3 linked regions of the Homo sapiens genome follow. The protein of the gene in region 3 purifies or fractionates together with the protein of the main gene of each other region. This does not show direct contact. Each region holds a gene or a part of one and is shown on either strand. Other genes may lie near its edges. The genes, in order: LZTR1, TJP2 and NUDT12.

Region 1 (3,747 bases), on a different chromosome or scaffold from region 3:
CCTTCGTGAAGGCTGTTTGTGCTGCACAGCAAGTACGTGTGTCCTTCATGTTGACCGTTCTGAGCCTTTCCCATGTCAGCCCAGACCCTCCACCCAATGGTCTTATCTCCCTCTGTCCAAGTACACCTCCCTGCTGGGCACTAGGGTCTGGCACAGAACAGACCCCCTGCTGTCCTCAAGGGCCAGCTGTTCAGGGTGCCCAGAGTGGAGAGCCTGTTTTCTTCTGTCTTGACCCCTCCTCCCCTCACTCCTGCAGGACTGGCGACATGTCCTGGCTTACGGGGAAAGGATCCTGAGCTCACATGCAGTAGACTTGGGCAGGCAAAGGGGGCACCAAGGGCACAGGCCAAGCCTTGGGGGCAGGTGCCAATCTCCAGTCCCAGGATCCCCCAGGGCAGAACCTGAGCCCTCCCAGTGCTTGCCTTCAGCCACCTGGCTCCCCTCCTGGGAGGCCTCTGCTGGATCCAGAAGATGCTCAACCCTCAAGGCCTCTGCTGCCACTGACAGCTGGCACTGGAGGCAGGACAAGCCCTGCCTCTTCTCCCTCTATTGGGACTGGTCCCCTGAAGAACCCTGCAACACGTTAAACATTACCGTAAAATTAAAACGCACAAATTTGCAGATCTGTATGACTCCCAGTGTAATTGGGCCAATAGGCACAGGACCAGACCACAGGGAAACAGGCACAATCACAGAATGCCAGGTGCCACACCAAGGAAATTTGGCCTGTGAACGCCCAGAGGAGGTAGCAACTAATTCTGCGCCCCAAGCCCTCCCACATCCCTCTCCCCCTCTGCGATCAGCGAACGCTTTTTGCTTTTGGCTCTGAGTTTTGAAGGAAGGGTATTCCAGGTAGAAGGGACAACATGCCCAAAGGTCTTGAGATAGTAAATGCTCCTTCAGAGGTGGCTCATGCTTGACACTTTGGGGCATTTGCCCACTTAGGGCTGTGGGAGCTGTGTCCTGAGACAGACCCCATGCTTTTCATAGCCGGAGCATTCTCAATCCCCATGTCGGAGGTGAAGGAGCTGAGGCCCTGCTAAGTAGGAATGAGAATCCAGAGGCTCCTCGCCGGGCTGCCTCTCAGTCAGTAAGAAAGCCAAGGGGAGAGGGGAGTTGCTGGGGGTCAGGGCTGAGGGCGCTAGCAGGAAAGGGAGCGTTGAGCCGCCTGCAGAGGCCGCTGCGAGCCCGGAACCCTCCATGGGGGATCCCGGCAGCGGCAGACGATCCAGGCCGGAGCCACGCGCAGACCCAGGGCATGCCGGGAACTGCGAGCCGGCCGCGGGTCTTCGGGCTGCGTGGGCCTGGGAGGCGCCGGGAAGAGCAGTCGCGACGGGGCTAGGGACGACACACTGCATTCACTGGAAGGGACAACGCAGCGCCAGTACATAGCCTGAAACGCTCCCCAGAAGGTCCCACGCTCGCCGCGCGGTCGACAACCGCATCCTGCGCTCGCCCGCGGTGTCTCGGCAAGCGGTAGGCTTGTCGGGAAGAGCTGGAGGGCGCAAGTGCGGCGCTGGCCGGACGTGCCGCACCGTCAGCGCAGGGCTCGCCGGGAAATGTGGTTTCTCCAGCCGGCCCGGGGCGGTGGCCGCAAGTTGGGCTTACAGCGCGGCCGATCCGGCGTGGACCCGGGATGGCTGGACCGGGCAGCACGGGGGGGCAGATCGGGGCTGCGGCCCTGGCAGGCGGCGCGCGGTCCAAGGTAGCCCCGAGCGTGGACTTCGACCATAGCTGCTCGGACAGTGTCGAGTACCTGACGCTCAACTTCGGGCCCTTCGAAACAGTGCATCGCTGGCGGCGCCTCCCGCCCTGCGACGAGTTCGTGGGTGCCCGGTACGGTGGGCTTCATGGGGTCCTGAGGACAGGAAGGGCGATCTGCGAGGGTCCCAGGGCGGGTCCAGGGGCGAAGCCGGGGGGTGGTGTCCTGGGGTAGGATCTGGTAATGAGGTGGATGGTGCTGTACAGGACGCTGTTCAGGGCAGGGGAGAGGGTTCCGAGGGAGTCCCAGAGCCCGATGTCCCGGGACAGGGTACTGGAACTAAGTTGTGTTTGTGGATATTGGGCTGGGGTCCCAGGTGCTCTGAGGTGGGGTGAGGAGTCCAGAGAGTCCTGGAGCCGTGTCAGGGGTCCTCACTTGCAGGATGATTGGTGTTATCTTAGAAGATGATGGATCTTAGCAGTTGAGAGGTGATACCTAACTTCCGTGGCAGCTCTCCTGCTTAGTCCCATTCCTTGGGTGCCCCCCAGGAGGGTCCTGTCCTTACCGCCCTCCACTCCTTTCTTTCCAGGCGCAGCAAGCACACAGTGGTGGCCTATAAAGATGCCATTTATGTATTTGGTGGAGACAATGGGTGAGTGAGTCTCAGCATCAGTGTTTGGACCAGGTAGGGAGAAGTACTGTGGTCAGGGACTGGGCCTGTCCAGCTCCATTACTGTCCTTTCAGATGCTAGCTGGTGCCTCTAAGCTTCAGTTTCCCCATCTGTGAGATTCCTTGCACTCACCTCCCTGGTCGTGGTGAGGATTAAATGAGATCCTGCACTCATGGTCCTCAGCACAGCTTCCAGTGGGTGGCACATGCTCAGTATGTGGAAATGTCCCTCTTCTGAGTAGATGCAGCCTTGAAAGAAACACAACCACCCTTGCGGCCAGCCCTGCCAGGCACTTTTCTTTCCCTGTGCCTCATCGGTATGGAGGACACAGTTTTATTTATTTCATGCATTTTTCACTTTTTGTGGGGGTTTTCCCAAATTGCTCCAAACATCAGGCAACAACGTGATGTTTTGTTGGTGGGCACACCTCCTTTCACATAAACTGTCTCCACTTAAGTTGTGGCTGGTTTCCTTATGCAGAGGGTGGAGTATTTGCACATGACTAGTTGTGTCCATGTGTCCTAGCCCTGCCTCTCAGCCCCAGGAACTAGCATGAAGCCCTGGAAGGTCTGGCCTCTTACTGGCTCTGCAGCCTTGGTCCTGTAGGCCTCCTTGGGGGGCGGGCTTGAGGATGGTGGGGTAGTCTGGACCCCACCAGGATCTGCATACTGGGCAGAAGAGCCTCCTTGGGCATGGTCCCCTGGCTTCAAGCCTGTCTTCCTCCCACTCTCTTTCCCCAGGAGTAGCCGGTGGGGCCCATTTACAAAAGCAAGTCAGAGTATGCTCCTCCTTGGCTCATCCTCCTGTAATGCCTCCCTGCCTCTCTGAGTAAAAGCCCAAGTCCTCATGAGAGTCTGCTGCTCCTCTGCCCTCAGTCCCTCACTGCACTGGGGCGGCACGGGCTGCCTTGCTATGTTTGGATTGTACCAAGTGCCCCCCTGCTCAGGCCCTTGCACTGCCCATTCTCTCCTCTCACCTTCCTGCCCCTCCTCTGATGTTTCTTGTGACTGAGGCCTTACTTGGCCATCTGGACCAACTGGAGACCATTGCTTCCCCTCCATACCTCTTACCATCTTCATTTGTTCCTGAGGCACACAGATGTTGGTTATTATCCATCTCTTCAGTCAAGGCAGGGCCTGTGCTCCTTTTACCATTGTATCCTGGCATCTAGAAAACTCCATAAATGTTTGTCAAATGAAGGAATGAAATGAAGAAGAGATGCCTACCCACAAGCATTTACTGCAGCCTTAATGAGAACCCTCCAAACCAGAAAGGGCTTTAGTGTCCAGTACAAGGCAGCAAGTGGGAAATGGGGGACCTTCATCCTCAAGAGTGTCCTTAGCAGGTAGTTTGTGTGACAACTGTGTAGCAATA
Region 2 (3,747 bases), on a different chromosome or scaffold from region 3:
TCTTATTGAACAGTGCCGCTCTAGAGAGAAAAAAGGAAATCAGTCAGTAGATGTAACTGCCACATTCTGGATTATTTTTTAAATGTTAGTGGCTCTAAGCCCACATCATTAAGGTGTGGCCACCTTTCAAGTGCTATCATTTTTATTAGTCAGCACCACCTAATTTGGGAAATATTTTATTTTTTTTTCCTTTTTTTTGATTAAAACAATTTTTAAAAAATAGAGATGGGGTCTCACTATGTTGCCCAGACTGGTCTCAAACTCGTGGGCTCAAGTGATTCTCCTGCCTTGCCTTCCCAAAGTGCTGGGATTACAGGCATGAGCCACCGTGCCTGGCCAGATTTGGGAAACATTTTATAAATAGGTGCTTAGATCAGGAGAGCAATGCCTTACATCAGGAATACAACCAAAATGTCTAAGTCCGGAGACTCGAGGCAAAGTGGGAAACGTTACTCACAGTGCTTTTTATCCAGAGGCGTGGACTTAGTTACTCCAAAGGAGTCCAGAAGCATAACACTTCTGGAGAGGCATCTACTGGACTTGTTTTTCCACGAAACTTCTAGACTTGTTTTGATCAGGCAGGAAGTGAAGCAACTTTTCAGGGAGAGAGCCCAGCATCTGCATCTCCTCTGGGACAGACCACACCTTTTACCTTCTACTTGTGAGCCTAGGACGAGTTTTGCTTTCCAATTAAGGGAAGAGCAGGGCAGGCAAAACTATTCTCTTACAAGATGGTTTTTTAAGATTTCAAACCCAAGGTTATATTTTTAATCGGTACCTGTTTGGATTCTCCAAATTAATTTATATGCTCTTAAAATAAAGACACTTAACGTCACTGCACAATTCTTTGCACATGGAGGACTTCGAAAGGAATAAGCACACTGAATTGCATTAGATGAATCCTGTCAGATAAGCACTTGTGACCTACTGGCAACCTTTTATAAGCTGATGATGGGAGAGGAGTTTCAATCTCTTTATTGGAGTTGTTGGAAATGTGCCAAAGAGATAACCTGGAATATATTGTCCTGAAAAGTCCTGTTTTAATATTTAATACGAACATCTTATAACCCTCGGAATTCGGGTAGGCAGTTGTTGGGCTGAGAAATGTGGGGTACAAGGCCGTGTATGTGTTGGTTAGCCGGGCAGGCCTCTAGACAGGACCTAAAACTTTGAGGTTTTCCCAGTTCGACTCTTCGTAGGAGAACTGAAGCTGCCTGTGTGAGGCCCTGCGAACCTCGCCAAAAAGTCTTCCTACAGGATGCCCCCGCGACCTCACCGGGGAAACACCGCGGACAGTCGGGCCAGCAGCGCCCGGAGCTCACTCCAGGTCTCCAAACTTGCAGCACTTCCCAGAGCGCGCGCGCTCGGAGCGGGACCTGCTTGCTCCAGTGCACGCCGCGGAGCGAACCATCGGGCTGGCGGGGGTGGAGGGGTGCAGGCGTGGGGGCTGCGGGCCGCTCGGGCCTTGGGCTTCTCCTGCCGCCGCCGCCGCCTCCCGCCCCCGGCCAGGAGTCGCGCGTGACGCGGTTCGCCGCAGGAGCCTCGAAGGCGCGGCGCCGGCGAGCCCTTCCCCGGCAGGCGCGTGGGTGGTAGCGGCCAATTTGACAGTTTCCCGGGCCGGGCGGCCAGCGCGGAGGCGCCACGCTCGGGTCGGGGGCGGGCTGACGCCGCCGCCGCCGCGGGAGGAGGGACAAAGGGGTGGGTCCCCGCGGGTCGGCACCCCGGCGGTTGGGCTGCGGGTCAGAGCACTGTCCGGTGGTGCCCAGGAGGAGTAGGAGCAGGAGCAGAAGCAGAAGCGGGGTCCGGAGCTGCGCGCCTACGCGGGACCTGTGTCCGAAATGCCGGTGCGAGGAGACCGCGGGTTTCCACCCCGGCGGGAGCTGTCAGGTTGGCTCCGCGTAAGTGCCTCCTTGTGCCGCGCGGTTGGGAGGAGGGTCGTGAGCGTGAGCGTGGGAGCGCTGGGGGCTCTGCTCGCGTGCTGCTCTGAAGTTGTTCCCCGATGCGCCGTAGGAAGCTGGGATTCTCCCATCCGGACGTGGGACGCAGGGGAGGGGTAGGTTTCACCGTCCGGGCTGATGACTCGTGGCCTCCGGGGCTCCTGGAACCTTTACTCTGAAGTCACTTGGGCTGGAGATTAAGGCGCGAGTAGGGGACACTGTCTTGAACCCGGTGTCCTGGATTTCTGCTGGCTTGGAGGCATCTCGTGTCTGTTGTGTCGCTTGCATGTCTTTGTGTTTTCCTTCTCTATTTCAAACCACACTCGGTATTGATGCAAAGTTACAGGCTTGTGTACGTGAGAGAAACTGAAAACTCATCACAGAGCAGAATCCCTTTTCCCTTTCAATCAGCTGCGTCTGTAATAGAAGTAAAAGTTGTTTTTTTTTTTTTTTTTTTCCAGTAGGGAATGGGGATGGAGGTTTGGAAGGACCCACAAAAGAGGAGTGTGATGAATGCTTTGTATTCTAGTACTAGCCTACCTGTCACCAGTTCTTTTTATGTCTTCATTTGTCAAGTTTCTGCTTTTACACGGTAGTTTAAGTTATAAATAATCAGGGATTTCTACCACAGGGTTTTAACATTCTTGAAATGTGGACAAACTTGGGAGTGAGTGCTCCCGCGCTTAGTAATGGAATACAGCCTCCCACCTCTATTTCAGCTTCAGTTCTTAGGCTAGGCTGCTTTTCTGGCAGCTGTCTGGCCTGAGTAATGATGGTTGTGGTTTCCCTGAAGTTCCCAGCGGAGAGTCATCCCATGATAGAAACTGCCTTGCGCTTCTCACTCACGCTCTCAGCCCGGGGAATCCCAGCGGGGAGGAGGGAGGGAGGTCGTTTTCTTCAGCTCCCCAGGTGGTCTGTGCTGGGTGTGCTGACGGTCCTTTTGGGAAAACAGGTCCACCTTTGCCAGCGTAATTCAGAAAGAGATGTAATTTTCTGAGAGCACACACCTGGGCAGGAGATCGCTTGAAGTGAGAAATTCGTAGTGGTAAATGTATTTGTAGCAAAGTACCACTGCATATCCTGCTTGAGAGGATGAAATTTGATTATTTAGTAAGTTTTCATGAACAACTCCACTTCAGTGTGGGGATTACGCAGATGAGCAAGAGCGTGGCTCTGTCACACAGTCCCGTTGGGAAAGCCTGCAACTCATTAAGAATCCGATGAGTGCCATTTAGAAATGTGGACAGGGTACTGGAGCTTCCTCATTGTGGGGAGATGGCAGAAGCGGAGGTGCTTTACTAAAGCACCGGTGGCTTTTGAGGTGTTTCTTGTGTTTTTTTCAGAACTACTTCTGCAGTGGGGCCACTTTATTTCTTTTCAGAGCTACTTATGCAGATTGATGAAGGGGAACTTTCCCCTCTGAAATGCTGCTGTAACTTTTTCAGTACCATCCAGATATTATAATACTGAATGAGCCCCTACTCCTGCCAGTCACTGTGGGGGATACAAAGATGAACAAGATTCAATTTCTGCATTTAGGGGTCTAGTGGACCTGAAACTGTTAGACTTTACTCTGCAATCTGTGTCGGGATTCCTGAGACTGAGGGAGGGAATGTATGATGCCGATGCACACTCTGCAATACAGAAATTTAGCAAAGAGTGGGATTGGTCCTATATGCATTCCCTTCAGGGGATTCTTGCTGGGAATAAAGGGCATTTGAACAGTTACCTCACCCGAGCAAGCCACTATAGAAAATGGGGCCAGTAATGCGCCCACCTCACCGGGCTGAGTGAGGTCTGAATGAAATGA
Region 3 (3,747 bases):
GTTATAGCCCATAGTTTTTGATAGCTGCTGTCTCCTGGGTTCTGAAAGGGCGATCTGGCTGATGAATTGCATAGCAGGAATAGTATGAACAAAATTTAGGGAAAACAAGGAGTAAAGATTAATTGTCTCATTTTGGAGCTGTTCACCTTTCCTATTTGTGTCTTTCTGCTACTTATAAATAGGTTAAAACTGCTCACAGTCATGGAAACACTTGGATGAAACCTAACAGTGGAAATCTGTTTAGAAATTAAATTACCAGAAGTAATATCTACATGACAGAATAATTTTTGATTTATTCTAGAATTTACTTCGCTGTTCCTTTCATATTGAAATTTCTACATACGTTAAAAATACTATGCATAACAAAAGCTACAAATTTTCAGGACTTTATTTTGAAGCACTGCTGTACAGCTCCTGTACTGATCTCCCTTCCAAATTGTCTTTCTCTTAAGTTTATTTTCCAAAAACCCATATTATAGTTTTTTCAGCTAGGTTTAGTTTGAATAATATTTCACTGTCTCATGTTCTGGGGTCACCGTCACTCCCTCACATTCTCACAGGCCGCGCCAGGTAACTGCAAAATTGTCCTTCAAAAATACAGCGTCATTCACTACCTCCAGGGCAATGCTTATGCATATGCTATTCTGTGGAGATGGGAAGTGGAAAGTGTACACTTTTCCCTCTAGCTTTCTCAGCAGAAAAGCCATCTAGAAATAGTACCATTATTCATTCCAGAGAAGCACATAAAGTCTAACACCCAATTCTACTGTTTGATTTACTTTTTCAATTCTCATTGACAGGTTATAGAAGGTAAAGATTTGAAGGCAGAATAAAGTGCTGCCCTTGTTTTCCAAGAAGCTCAAGGACTATTCCGAGAAATCATTTAAAAGAATATTAGATGTAAAGGGACATAAATTTTTAACAAACCAACATCCACTTTTACTGACATGTAACCCGGGGCCCATGACTTCCGCATGCTCACACAGACCGAATGGGACAGGACAGGACCTTAAATATCGCTCTGTCACTGAAATCACTGACCATCAATTAACGAATTTCATCCACTCCCTGGGCACTCAAGACCAATTAAGTGCCACCCGTGCACGGTCTCTGAAAATGGTAAAATGCCTTAAGATATTTTACTTTCTTGCCACTACTGTGAGATTCCTTCTTTCGAGGTGAAATCACACCCTAAGTAGCGCTTCCTTTTCCCCATCTCAGCTTGGGCAGGAAACTCTACGACCTCAGTACCGCCGCACCTCCGCCCTGTCGCGGGAGCCCCTGCAAATGCGTCCGTGGCTCCCGCGCCTGCGCCCACCAAACCACTACGAGGCTCCGCCACACAACTCAGCAGGGCCACGCAGGGCAGCGCGGGAACCAAAGAGCCCAGGGAAGTGGTCACCGCCCCCAGAGGAGGCAATGAGACGACTAACTCCCCACTGCTTCTACTAACCCAAAGGTGACCACAGTAGAGGCAACCAGGATGCAGTCCAAAGATTGGGATATCCCACTCGCTTTTCCTGGAGCCGGATGCAGTCTTCCCGACTTCCGGTGGAGATCCGGGGGTGGGGGGGGGGCGGGAGGGGGGCCCCCGCGGTTTTATGGGAGATGTAGTTTGAAGCCCACAGGTTGTGCGCAAGGGAGAAGGGGTGGAGATTGGGGGTGGAAGTGTTTGGGAGCCGGCGCGGGAGAGATCGCGGTCTAAAGGATTGGAGCTGAATGAAGGGCTGAAAATCCTTCTCCTGAGACTGTGATGTGTAGATAGAACGTGGTGCAGGCGATCGGAAAACTGTAGGCCTAAGGAAACGATTTTAAATTTTCCAGCGTCTCCCACCCAACTCCTAGCCCTCTCTCCAATACAGTCCAATGCAATTGAGTGCTCAAAGCATTCTTTCCTGTTAAATAATCCTGGACTATTGACTAGACCAAGTCACTCTTAAACGAGATATTCGGCCTCTGTAACACCTTAATCATTCACCCCATGGGAAAACTGGTATCATATACTGACGCCTAACTTATTCAGTAGTCCTTTAAAAAGTATGTATCAAGCGCGCAAAACACCTCCTTGGGTTGTGAGGTGTAAATAGGATAATGTATCCAAAGCTCTTAGGATGTTGTGAAGTGCAGAGTGGGCACCCACAACAAAATTATTGTCGTTATTTTTTATTTCAGTTCCTGTGCTTTTATGCTCCAAAACCTACAGAAGTTATGAGTCCGAGATTACAAAACTAGGTGTTGGCGGTCTTCTAACTTCCAGACCAGGGCTTTTTCCTTTACTAAACTCTCTCCTTGGTAATCAGCAACAGCTACAGGGGTCTCTTACAATTGATCACTGTTTCCCACCCAGATTTTACCCTTGGAAGCTCCTTCTCACTGTGAAGCTGTATGCACCAGTTGACATTGATCATGAGGGCTTCTAACGCCCTGTGCTGCTGTTTTTTTTTTTTTTTTCTTTTTTTTAGATGGGTTCTCACTCTGTCACCCAGGCTGGAGTGCAGTAGTGCGATCTTGGCTCACTGCAACCTCCGCCTCCCGGGGTTTCAAGTGATTCTCCTGCCTCAGTCTCCCGAGTAGCTGGGATTACAGGTGTGCGCCACCAGGCCCAGCTAATTTTTGTATTTTTAGTAGAGACAGGTTTTTGCCATGTTGGCCAGGCTGGTCTGGAACTCCTGACCTCAGGTGATCCATCCGCCTTGGCCTCCCAAAGTGCTGGGATTACAGGCGCGAGCCACTGCACCCGGCCGCCCTATGCTTCTTTATGTGACTAGTTGTTTTCAGCCTTTAATGATTTCAGTGACCAGACAGGTGGTCAGAAAGGATTAGTTACTTCACTTGGAGTACCCAATCTTTGCATTCAAACATATGTTAGATTAGTATAGTGAACCCTCGTGTATTAATGATCCAGAGTCAACAACTATTAATATATAGTTCTCCCAGTTGTTAGGATTGTTTTGAAGTAAATTCCAGACCCCATATTGTTTTGATGACAAATATTTAAGAGTAAACTTTTTGGAAATATGTATTATATCTAAAATATAAGGGCTTTGAAAAACAACACAACTTCAATATCCCTAGTATTACAAATTTAACAATAATTCTGTAATAACATAAAAGAAACATTCAATATCAAATTTACTCACTTGCCTCAGAAGTTTTATATGTTTTTCAGTTGATTCATCTGAACAAAGTCTCCACATCACATTTGATTTTTAAAAATCTATGGATTCCTTCCTCTTCCCCTTTTTTTCTGGCAGTTTATTTACTAAAGAGTAATGATCATTTGTTCTGTAGAATTTTCCACATTCTGAATTTTGCAGATTTTATTCCTGTGCTGTCCTTTCCCCCTGTATTTCTTGCAAACTGGTAGTTAACTTTATAGAATTACTCAGATTAAAGTTTGATTTTTTTTCACAAAAGACTTTATAGGTGTTACAGTTTACTTTGTATTGAATTACTTCAAGAGGCTTACAACTTCTGGTTGTCTCTCTTTTTTTAATGTTATACTTGATCATTGGGTTCAGATGTTGTCAACCTGATAACATGTATGATAAATAATAATATAAATATTATAAAAATATGGTAAATGTTTATGATAAATATATGACATTGATATATAATTATGATAAATATAATTATATTATTTAAATATTAAATTTATGATAAATATATTATAAATTTTTCCATCAACTTTTCAGCTAATAGTTTTAGCAGCCATTCATGATTATTGCCTGCATCCATCATTTTGTT

The links.
Region 1: the proteins of NUDT12 (region 3) and LZTR1 purify together in Homo sapiens (affinity purification with mass spectrometry; 3 studies listed by BioGRID and IntAct, with this or other methods). This does not show direct contact.
Region 2: the proteins of NUDT12 (region 3) and TJP2 purify together in Homo sapiens (affinity purification with mass spectrometry; 3 studies listed by BioGRID and IntAct, with this or other methods). This does not show direct contact.

What each region holds. Positions count from the first base shown.
Region 1 is NC_000022.11:20,980,736-20,984,482, forward strand, and holds the start of LZTR1 (leucine-zipper-like transcriptional regulator 1), read left to right. Parts: upstream 1-1,561; 5' UTR 1,562-1,636; coding exon 1,637-1,836; intron 1,837-2,291; coding exon 2,292-2,354; intron 2,355-3,747. Other genes in the region: AIFM3 (apoptosis-inducing factor 3), read left to right, coding at 12-32, 257-296. UniProt on the Homo sapiens protein: Substrate-specific adapter of a BCR (BTB-CUL3-RBX1) E3 ubiquitin-protein ligase complex that mediates ubiquitination of Ras (K-Ras/KRAS, N-Ras/NRAS and H-Ras/HRAS).
Region 2 is NC_000009.12:69,172,535-69,176,281, forward strand, and holds the start of TJP2 (tight junction protein 2), read left to right. Parts: upstream 1-1,742; 5' UTR 1,743-1,838; coding exon 1,839-1,898; intron 1,899-3,747. UniProt on the Homo sapiens protein: Plays a role in tight junctions and adherens junctions. Acts as a positive regulator of RANKL-induced osteoclast differentiation, potentially via mediating downstream transcriptional activity.
Region 3 is NC_000005.10:103,561,250-103,564,996, forward strand, and holds the start of NUDT12 (NAD-capped RNA hydrolase NUDT12), read right to left. Parts: upstream 1,541-3,747; 5' UTR 1,454-1,540; intron 1-1,453. UniProt on the Homo sapiens protein: mRNA decapping enzyme that specifically removes the nicotinamide adenine dinucleotide (NAD) cap from a subset of mRNAs by hydrolyzing the diphosphate linkage to produce nicotinamide mononucleotide (NMN) and 5' monophosphate mRNA.